Linked DNA regions of Homo sapiens: all the other regions are linked to region 3. The links come from fine-mapping of genetic effects on gene expression. A gene starts in region 3. Each other region holds a variant in brackets. All regions are shown on one strand. Distances are between the middles of the regions. Region 1 has its middle 21 kb from the start of SSPN. Region 2 holds the start of LOC105369704 (a long non-coding RNA gene). Region 3 holds the start of BHLHE41 (basic helix-loop-helix family member e41).

The links. PIP is the estimated chance that this variant, and not a neighbour inherited with it, causes the effect.
Region 1: its variant is the best candidate, but not a certain one, in a credible set for the expression of BHLHE41 in testis (GTEx, PIP 0.51).
Region 2: its variant is the best candidate, but not a certain one, in a credible set for the expression of BHLHE41 in thyroid (GTEx, PIP 0.62).

What each region holds. Positions count from the first base shown.
Region 1 is chr12:26,173,144-26,175,906 of GRCh38, reverse strand. It overlaps a transcript of SSPN not described here. Among named protein-coding and RNA genes, the nearest start is that of SSPN, 21 kb to the left of the region's middle. The variant C/T (reference allele first, on the strand shown) is at 1,545.
Region 2 is chr12:26,274,414-26,277,176 of GRCh38, reverse strand. All of the region lies in intron 1 of LOC105369705 (a long non-coding RNA gene), which reads right to left. LOC105369704 (a long non-coding RNA gene) reads left to right here and starts at 1,122. Exons shown (of 2, transcript NR_188068.1): 1 at 1,122-1,318. RefSeq lists enhancers at 1,940-1,989, 2,010-2,449. The variant A/G (reference allele first, on the strand shown) is at 1,433.
Region 3 is chr12:26,123,583-26,126,345 of GRCh38, reverse strand. BHLHE41 (basic helix-loop-helix family member e41) reads left to right here and starts at 1,309. Exons shown (of 5, transcript NM_030762.3): 1 at 1,309-1,628; 2 at 1,764-1,827; 3 at 2,167-2,274; 4 at 2,605-2,716. The coding sequence starts at 1,567. It also overlaps a transcript of SSPN not described here.

The DNA of each region.
Region 1 (2,763 bases), 50 kb before region 3:
CAAGATCATGCTACTGCACTCCAGCCTGGGTGACAGAGCAAAACTTTGTCTCAAAAAAAAAAAAAAACTCAAAATAAATTTTTTATACTCGGAATTGAATTTGCTTTTTAAGCCCATTAGAATTACAGTTTTTGTAATTTTTTTTATTTTTAACAAGTAAGCTCTGTGAATTCCATAGAATTGTATTTCCCATTATAGATTCATATCTCACAGTTGAAGTGAACTGCTTTTTTCAAATGTTGGTTTATTGAGCTAAAATTTTGGCATCACCTCAGCTTTTCTGTATAGCTCTTTAAAACAAATAGATTCCTGAATATGCTAATTATAAATATGACTATTATCATTGTTTAAAACATAAAAATTCCCATAAAAATCACAAAAAAATAAAATTAGCTACCTGGCAAGAGAATGAAATGGTGATCTATAGACTGGGAGAAAATATTTACAAATCACATATTGATAAAGAACTTGTATCCAGAATATATAAAGAACTCTCCAACTCAGTAATCAAAACACAAATAATCCAATAAAAAATGGAAAAGATTTGGACAGACACTTCACAAGAGAAGATACATGGCAAATAAGCACCTGAGAAAATGTTCAGTATCATTGGTCATTAGGAAAATGCAAATTAAATCACAACGAGGTGTCACTTCATAGGTATGGGAATAGCTAAAATTGAAAAGACTGGGCATTTCAAGTGTTGGTGAGGATGTAGAGAAACTGCAGTTGTCACACGCTGCTAGTAGGCATACAAAATGCTACACCCACTTCGGAAAAGAGTTTGGTAATTTCTTAAAAAGTTAAAGACGTCTATCATATGACCTCGCCCAGGATAAGTAAAAGCCTACACCCACAAATGAAGATTTGTAGGCAAATGTTCATAGCAACTTTATTTGTAATATCCCTAACATGGAAACAAACCCATGGCTGGATTGCAAAATAATCATTCTGAGGGAAAAAAGCCAGACCAAAAACAAACAAAAAAATACATCTAGTGATTCCATTTGTATAAAATCCTAGAAAACGCAAACTAATCTATAGAGGCAGAAAGTAGATCAATGGTTTCTAGAAATGGTAGGGGGAGGCCGGGCACGGTGGCTCACGCCTGTAATCCCAGCACTTTGGGAGGTCGAGGTGGGTGGACCACCTGAGATCAGGAGTTCGAAACCAGCCTGGCCAACATGGTGAAACCCCGTCTCTACTAAAAATACAAAAATGAGCCGGGTGTGGTGGCATGCACCTGTAGTCCTAGCTACTTGGGAGGCTGAGGCAGGAGAATCAGTTGAACCTGGGAGGCGGAGGTTGCAGCGAGCTGGGATTTTGTCACTGCACTCCAGCATGGGCAATAGAGTGAGATTCTGTCAAAAAAAGAAAGGAAGGAAGGAAGGAAGGAAGGAAGGGAAGGAAGGAAGGAAGGAAGGAAGGAAGCGTGGGTAGCAGGATGGGGAAGGAGGTAGGGATTACTAAGGGACACAAGAAAATTTTAGAAGGTGATGGGAAAACTTACCAAACTTTACACTTTAAATATGTGCAGTGTATTA[C/T]ATGACAATCATACTTCAATAAAGCTGATAATGAGAAAAATAGGTAGATGTGGTCAGTATTTGCAGTTTAAGTGGAGCTTGAAGCATGATCAATATTTAACCAAGATAGTCTTTAGAGATCAGGCTTGTATAAGTTAGTGATGATGCCTTGAAAGTGTGAGTTTGACCTTCAAATAATGCCTAACATTTCTCATGGCTACCGCAAAGAAGTTTCCTGATTTATTTTTCACCTTTACTGGGTTTAAGCAGGGTGTATTTATCTTCTTGGTGACTGACGAAACCCTGGCCATTTCCTCCCTGGGATGCTTTTAGCCAGGCAAGCTTGCCTTCCATGTCATAGGATGGTTCACTTAAAAAATTTATAAACTTAATATAGAAATCTCATGTATCACATATTTCTTTGAGTTTTGGAGATGGCTGCAAATGAATTTTTCCTTGTCTAGTAGTTTTATGGTATTGTTTAAATAAATCTTCATTGCTTCATTCATCCTTGAAGACACTATTTAAGTTTAATCATCCACGTAAGCCACAGTTGACGTAATAAACGAAATAAGAAAAATGGTAAGGGCAATATATTTTAATGCATAGAGATTTACTTTCCAAATTCCTTGAAATATAAAATTTGAAGATACAATGGCTTGTCAATCAATGATTAAAATAGCTTTCTAAGAGAAATACCACAGGCTTCTTATAAAAGACGATGATTGAACATATGTATTTGCCTACCTTCCTTCCTGAAACCCTATAGAAATGGTCATAAAGTAGTAAAACAGGAAGAGAAAAAAGAAGAAACCTATAAGAGTAAGGAGAAAGCAAAGAAGATATCAGCATATGAAAGAGATCAGCAAATATCTGGACAATGGAAAAAGAAAAAGAGCATGATAGCAGAAGAGGCCCTGGATATCCCCAAAAAGAAAGGCTCCAGAGTAGGGATGCACCAGGGTTCCCAGGAGTGGCTGAATCTGTAGTTACAGAGGGCAAAGTTCAAAGGTGGACCTGAAACCTGGGGACTTCATTAGAGATCTATTTAGAGAACAGTTGCACCCACCACCACTACTTCCACTCTTAAATGCAGAACGACACCCTTACAGGCCACCCTGACATTTGTCCCCACGCTCTTTTCTAAAGAAAGGAAACACACAGACACTCCTAGAATGGCAGTTCACACCCCAGAGTAAAGTTTCCCAGTTCTGGAAGTTGGAAATCACCCAGAAGCCCG
Region 2 (2,763 bases), 150 kb before region 3:
CTGTCTCTAAATAGATAAATAAATAAATAAAAATAAAAAAGATAGAGATAATAATATTAAGCCAACAAGGTTGTTGTAAGGATAAAACTGAGTTAATATGTAAAGTCCTTTAGTGCTGTGCTCAACACACAAGAAGTGCTCCTCCCTACATGTGGACACTACATGGGATGATATGATGATGATGATGATGATGATGACGATGACGATGTCAGCCATGTGGCTGCCCCTCATCTTATAGCACTTATCTTGTCCATCTGGTGCTAAAGAGCCAGTCTCAGAGGAGGTATGTCATCTGCTTCCTATGGTCAGCTGAGTTGAACAAAATACCATGAAGTGATTCAAGCCAGGAAGTCAATCAATATAACTCAAGCTGAAAGAGCCCTTCTTTAAAGAATCTAAAGAATTGCCTCATCTTTCCTCCTTCCTTTTCTCAACCAAACAACAAAATGTTTTGCCTTAAGAATTAGATGCCTTAAGGATTTTGTTTTAAATTAGAATTTTATGAATGTCCTTCCTCTCTGAAATTTTATATTATAAATATGTGTAGAAATACTCTAAAGGGATGTCTGTGATCTGGGTGTTGGGATTTCATCTTGCTACATGGGATAATGAAATACGGAACTTATTTGAGCAGAGATTCAGGTCTATTGAGAATTATAACCAAAGTACCGCTTATTGAGCACTTTCTAAGCTAAACGACTTTATATACTTTATCGAATCCTTACTATAAATTTATATTTTCTCCATTTTGCAAATGAAAATTCTAAAGAAAAATTTTACTAGTTGTAAAAAGGCCATATCTGCTTGGCCATAAGACCTGTTTATGCTATTCTGTCTCACTAACAAATTTTTAGATAGAAGTCACTAGAGATGAACATTAGGCTAACCTTAAAAGATAATGATGGAGAAAAAGAAAAACACTCAAAATGCTTTACAAGTTTTACTTTAGTCTTCACAACCACCCTACGAGGTAGCAGCTTTTGTTGCCTTCATTTTACAGATGAGGGATCCAAGCAGAGAAATCAGTTGTGTGCCAGACTCACATAGCTGGTGGCCCGTAGCAGAGCTGGGATTCAAACCCAGGCAGTTTGACCTTGAGCTTTGTGTTATGCTGTCATAGGCAGGGGTCAGTCTCCTGAAGCCTTGCACAGGGAAGGAAATGTTCCCTTCCTTGTGCATTAGGCAAGCTGCCCTGAACTTCCTGCAGCACCCACCATAGAATAACCCACCAACTCCATAGGAAACCTCGCTTATGCACCCAGATCTGGTCTGTGATTTGCTACAGAAAGACAAGAAATGGCCTGTGGCTTCTTGCTAGGTATGTTGAAAAGCATGGTGGGGTGGGAGTGCAAGCCATGATTAATTGTTTGCTGATGTGGAAAGTCTATAAAGTTTGAACCACATTTCTCAGAAACATGAAGAGGAACAAATA[A/G]TTTCTGGTCCATTAAGCCTTTTCTTACAGGGCTTCATATTGTTTTCTCAGGGGTTTTGTTTGTTTGTTTGACCTCAGAATGTGAGCAATAATGTGTCTTTTTTTTCCCTTTCTGGCTAAAACCAAACCTTTTGACTTCTCAGTTGATATAAACGTGCCCTTTCTCCCGCCCCTCAGACTTGTTCTTTCTTTTTTTTTTTTTTTAAGATGGAGTCTCACCCTGTCACCCAGGCTGGAGTGCAATGGCGCAATCTTGACTCACTGCAACCTCCGCCTCCTGGGTTCAAGTGATTCTCCTGCCTCAGCCTACGGAGTAGCTGGGATTATAGGCGCTCGCCACCATGCCTGGCTAATTTTTTTGTATCTTTAGTAGAGATGGTGTTTCACCATGTTGGCCAGTCTGGTCTCAAACTCCTGACCTCGTGATCCGCCCGCCTCAGCCTCCCAAAATGCTGGGATTACAGCAGGGCCACCGTGTACGGCTGACTTGTTTCATTTCTTAGAGCTAAAATGAGGTTTGGAGAAAGCTCTGTTCATTTTGAAGCCTCAGTCTTCACCCCAACACTCCTGGATCCTGGCTGGAGGAGCTGTGATTACCCGAGATAGGAAAACCCTGGCAGCTCAGCTACAGGCCTAAATAAACAGTGAATCTTCTTGCAAGCAGCCCATCTGGGCTTCAAATGCCCCCAGAGTCTCCTTCAGCCTGGTGCGTGGGCTCTGTGGGGCCTGCATTTCAGAGCCTCCTGTGGTGCTTCCCCTTCCAGGGCAGGCCCCACTGGGCACTGACTCAGGGCTTATCATTCTTTACTAGAAGTTCCGGATGAAGCAATGCAGGGGAGAGAGTCACTGTTTCTGCTCCCTAACTCTGACCATGACTCATTATTCAGCAAACACAAAACGGTTCCACATCCTCCTCCCGAGAAGGAGGCGCAGAGCCCATTACATAAGCAGCAGTCTACAGCTGCTCTTGGGTAATTGAAAGTGAAGCCCTCAACTGGAGGTCCTGCTGGGATGGCATGACTCCCTCCTCACCCCTTGATACCAATCTTTATGAGCAGAGAAACCCTCTCCAGGAGAGGGCCCCCAAAGCCAGGGGGTTTGTTTTTTGCACAGTAGGCCTCATGTTTGGAATAGCTTGTATTTTCTGCCTTGTTAAAACCTGGCCCTTCCGTAGTGTCTCTGATCTTATCTCCTGATGAGCCAGAGCTGAGCTGCGGGAGGCAGAATCTGCCCAGCGTGCTGAGCAGAGGAGGAAACGTGGCCTGGGGTTTCTGTGCCCAGGGACCCACCCAAGAAGGACCACCCAGGAACGATCATCTTAGGGAGAGGAT
Region 3 (2,763 bases):
ATGTATATCTAGAGAAATATATATATAGCCTCCATCCCACCCCTGGGAGTCCCTCAGGACATGCCTTCCCCTGGGCTGGCAGGGCGGCGTGGGCAGTGCGCATCCCCGGGCACCTCCCGGTAACTCTCACTAGCAGTGAGTCATGCTCCCAGGGTGGCTCTGGGGAAAGGTAACCCGGCTCTTGCTGGCCTGTGATTCCCGGCGCCGAGCGCCGCGGCTGCAGGGCGAGCGCGCGCGCGCACGGGTTCCCCGAGCAGTGATGTGGCAGCAGCGGCAGGTCGGATCACGTTGCTGGCCCTGTGCTGGTACCCGTTTGAGACCGGATTAAGGAGGGAGGCTTTGGAGGTGCCAGCGGTAGTAAACGTGGGCTCTGCACACTCCGGGCGTCTCTTATCGCGCGGGGGGGCGGGGGGATGGGGAAAGCACGTAGCGTCACCGGAGGCTCAGAACGCGGCAGAGTTGAGCGGGCGGGTGATAAATGCTGCATAGCTTTTCTGTGGTAGCCCCTCTCGTGCCACCCCCTCTCGTGCCACCCCCTTCTCCCTTCCCAGCCCCCACTCAACCCCGGCTCGCTCCCCGCCGCGTTCCTCCAGGAGCACACGCGGCCCCAAACGTCGTCATCTGCTGCTGTGATTAGTGGCACCGCAATTCCGGCTGCTGCGGGGAAGTTTAGTTGGCCCAGGGACGCCGTGTCACCGAAAGACACTTGGATTGCGACATTCGGACCCAGTGACAACGTTTTCATGTATCTTAAATCCTTCAAGGAGCGGATTGCAAGTTGCTTCTTCTCGAGGCAACCTCTCCACCCAGCGCCAAGGAGTCCCTCCAGGCCACTGATCAGTGAGCAAACAAGTCTCCAAAATTTCCTTTGGGACTCAAGTTTACCCACCGCGAATTCTCTTTTCACTTCCTTTCTATGGTTCAAACCAACAGCACAATCGGTGGAAAAGCAAAAAGCCACGTTCACATTCCTGCACCGTAACAACGGACGAACCCAGGGAGTCGCATTTTGGAGCCAAGGAAGCTCAGGCTGCCCCGCACCCCTGCACCCCCACTCCCCCCTCCTCCTGCCGACTGCATCGCCTTTGGGAAGATGAATAGCTTGGCCGAAGTTGTTTTTCCTTTCCGGTGGCCCTGATCAGGTGTCCCCGCCCCCTCCTGCCGTTCGCCTTCTCTCGCCGCCTTCTCCCGACGCCCCCGCCCGGCCCGGCCCCTCCTCCCCCGCCCCCCTCCGGGCTGGACCGCGGATGGTACGTTCCGCACGTGAGCTGGGTGCTGGTCTGGCCGGCGACGCGCGTGCCCTGTGGCCAAACACTGCCTGGAGTGAGAGCAAACTACCAGCGCAGTGGGGCCGGCGCGAGTGTGCGTGTGTGTGCGTGTGTGTGTGCGAGCGCGGTGGAGGGGGGGGACCAACTGCTTCACACTTTCAACACTGCACTGAAGAGGGAGAGCGAGAGAGAGACTGGAGACGCACAGATCCCCCCAAGGTCTCCCAAGCCTACCGTCCCACAGATTATTGTACAGAGCCCCAAAAATCGAAACAGAGGAAACGAACAGCAGTTGAACATGGACGAAGGAATTCCTCATTTGCAAGAGAGACAGTTACTGGAACATAGAGATTTTATAGGGTAAGGTGCACGCACCCTTGCGAATATCTGTCTAGGCTTTGGTTTGATTTTTTTCTTCTCCAGAAAGTGGTATGGAGCTGGCGAGGGCAGAGCCCCTCCCCGAATGGGTGCCTGATGCTGATTTCTGTTTTGCAGACTGGACTATTCCTCTTTGTATATGTGTAAACCCAAAAGGAGCATGAAACGAGACGACACCAAGGTAAGTGTAAGTTCCCGATATTCCTCATAACCTGCATGGGTAGTTAATTAGAGCCATTGATTTCACAGTGAAGCTCTGCCCGCAAATATATTCCAGCCCCTGAGCTTCCCCAACTGTGAATTTTAAGTGGCTTGCTGGGTACTCTCAGGGGGATATTAAACATCATACCTGAATTTAAATTGCATTGCAGAACAGTCCAGAGGAAAGAGGTTTCTTGGGTGTAGTTTATCACATAGTATGTTTTATGGTGGGGGGGCGGGGGGGGCAGACGAGGGTAATATCCAATAAGTGAATGTTTCGCTTACTGTTTTCTCTTTTCCATGACTCTCATATATTAAGGATACCTACAAATTACCGCACAGATTAATAGAAAAGAAAAGAAGAGACCGAATTAATGAATGCATTGCTCAGCTGAAAGATTTACTGCCTGAACATCTGAAATTGACAGTAAGATGCACATTTTCATTCTTTGCTGCTCTCCAAGGGCGTGTTAATAGTCTGGTGCGACTCCCAGAAAATATAAGAATAAATGTAAATATAAGTTCCTGACTTAAAACTTGTGCTATACCGTACAGAGTTTCCCGCAAACTGGAGTAGGTGCTCCCAGCTGAAGGCAAGAAATCATTTATAACCTGTCTTGTGGAAAGCTCAAGAAGTAAAAGAACAGTACTTCTTTCAAAGTGTTTGCTTAAATTGCTGTGCTGAATGGACAGCCAATTAAGCCAAATGTGTGTTTTTAAGTAACCAAGTGCCCGTTTCTTTTTTGCACCACTGCAGACTCTGGGACATCTGGAGAAAGCTGTAGTCTTGGAATTAACTTTGAAACACTTAAAAGCTTTAACCGCCTTAACCGAGCAACAGCATCAGAAGATAATTGCTTTACAGAATGGTAAGTCAGTTCAGGGAGGCCAGCCTACCCTGATGAAGCGGGGCAGC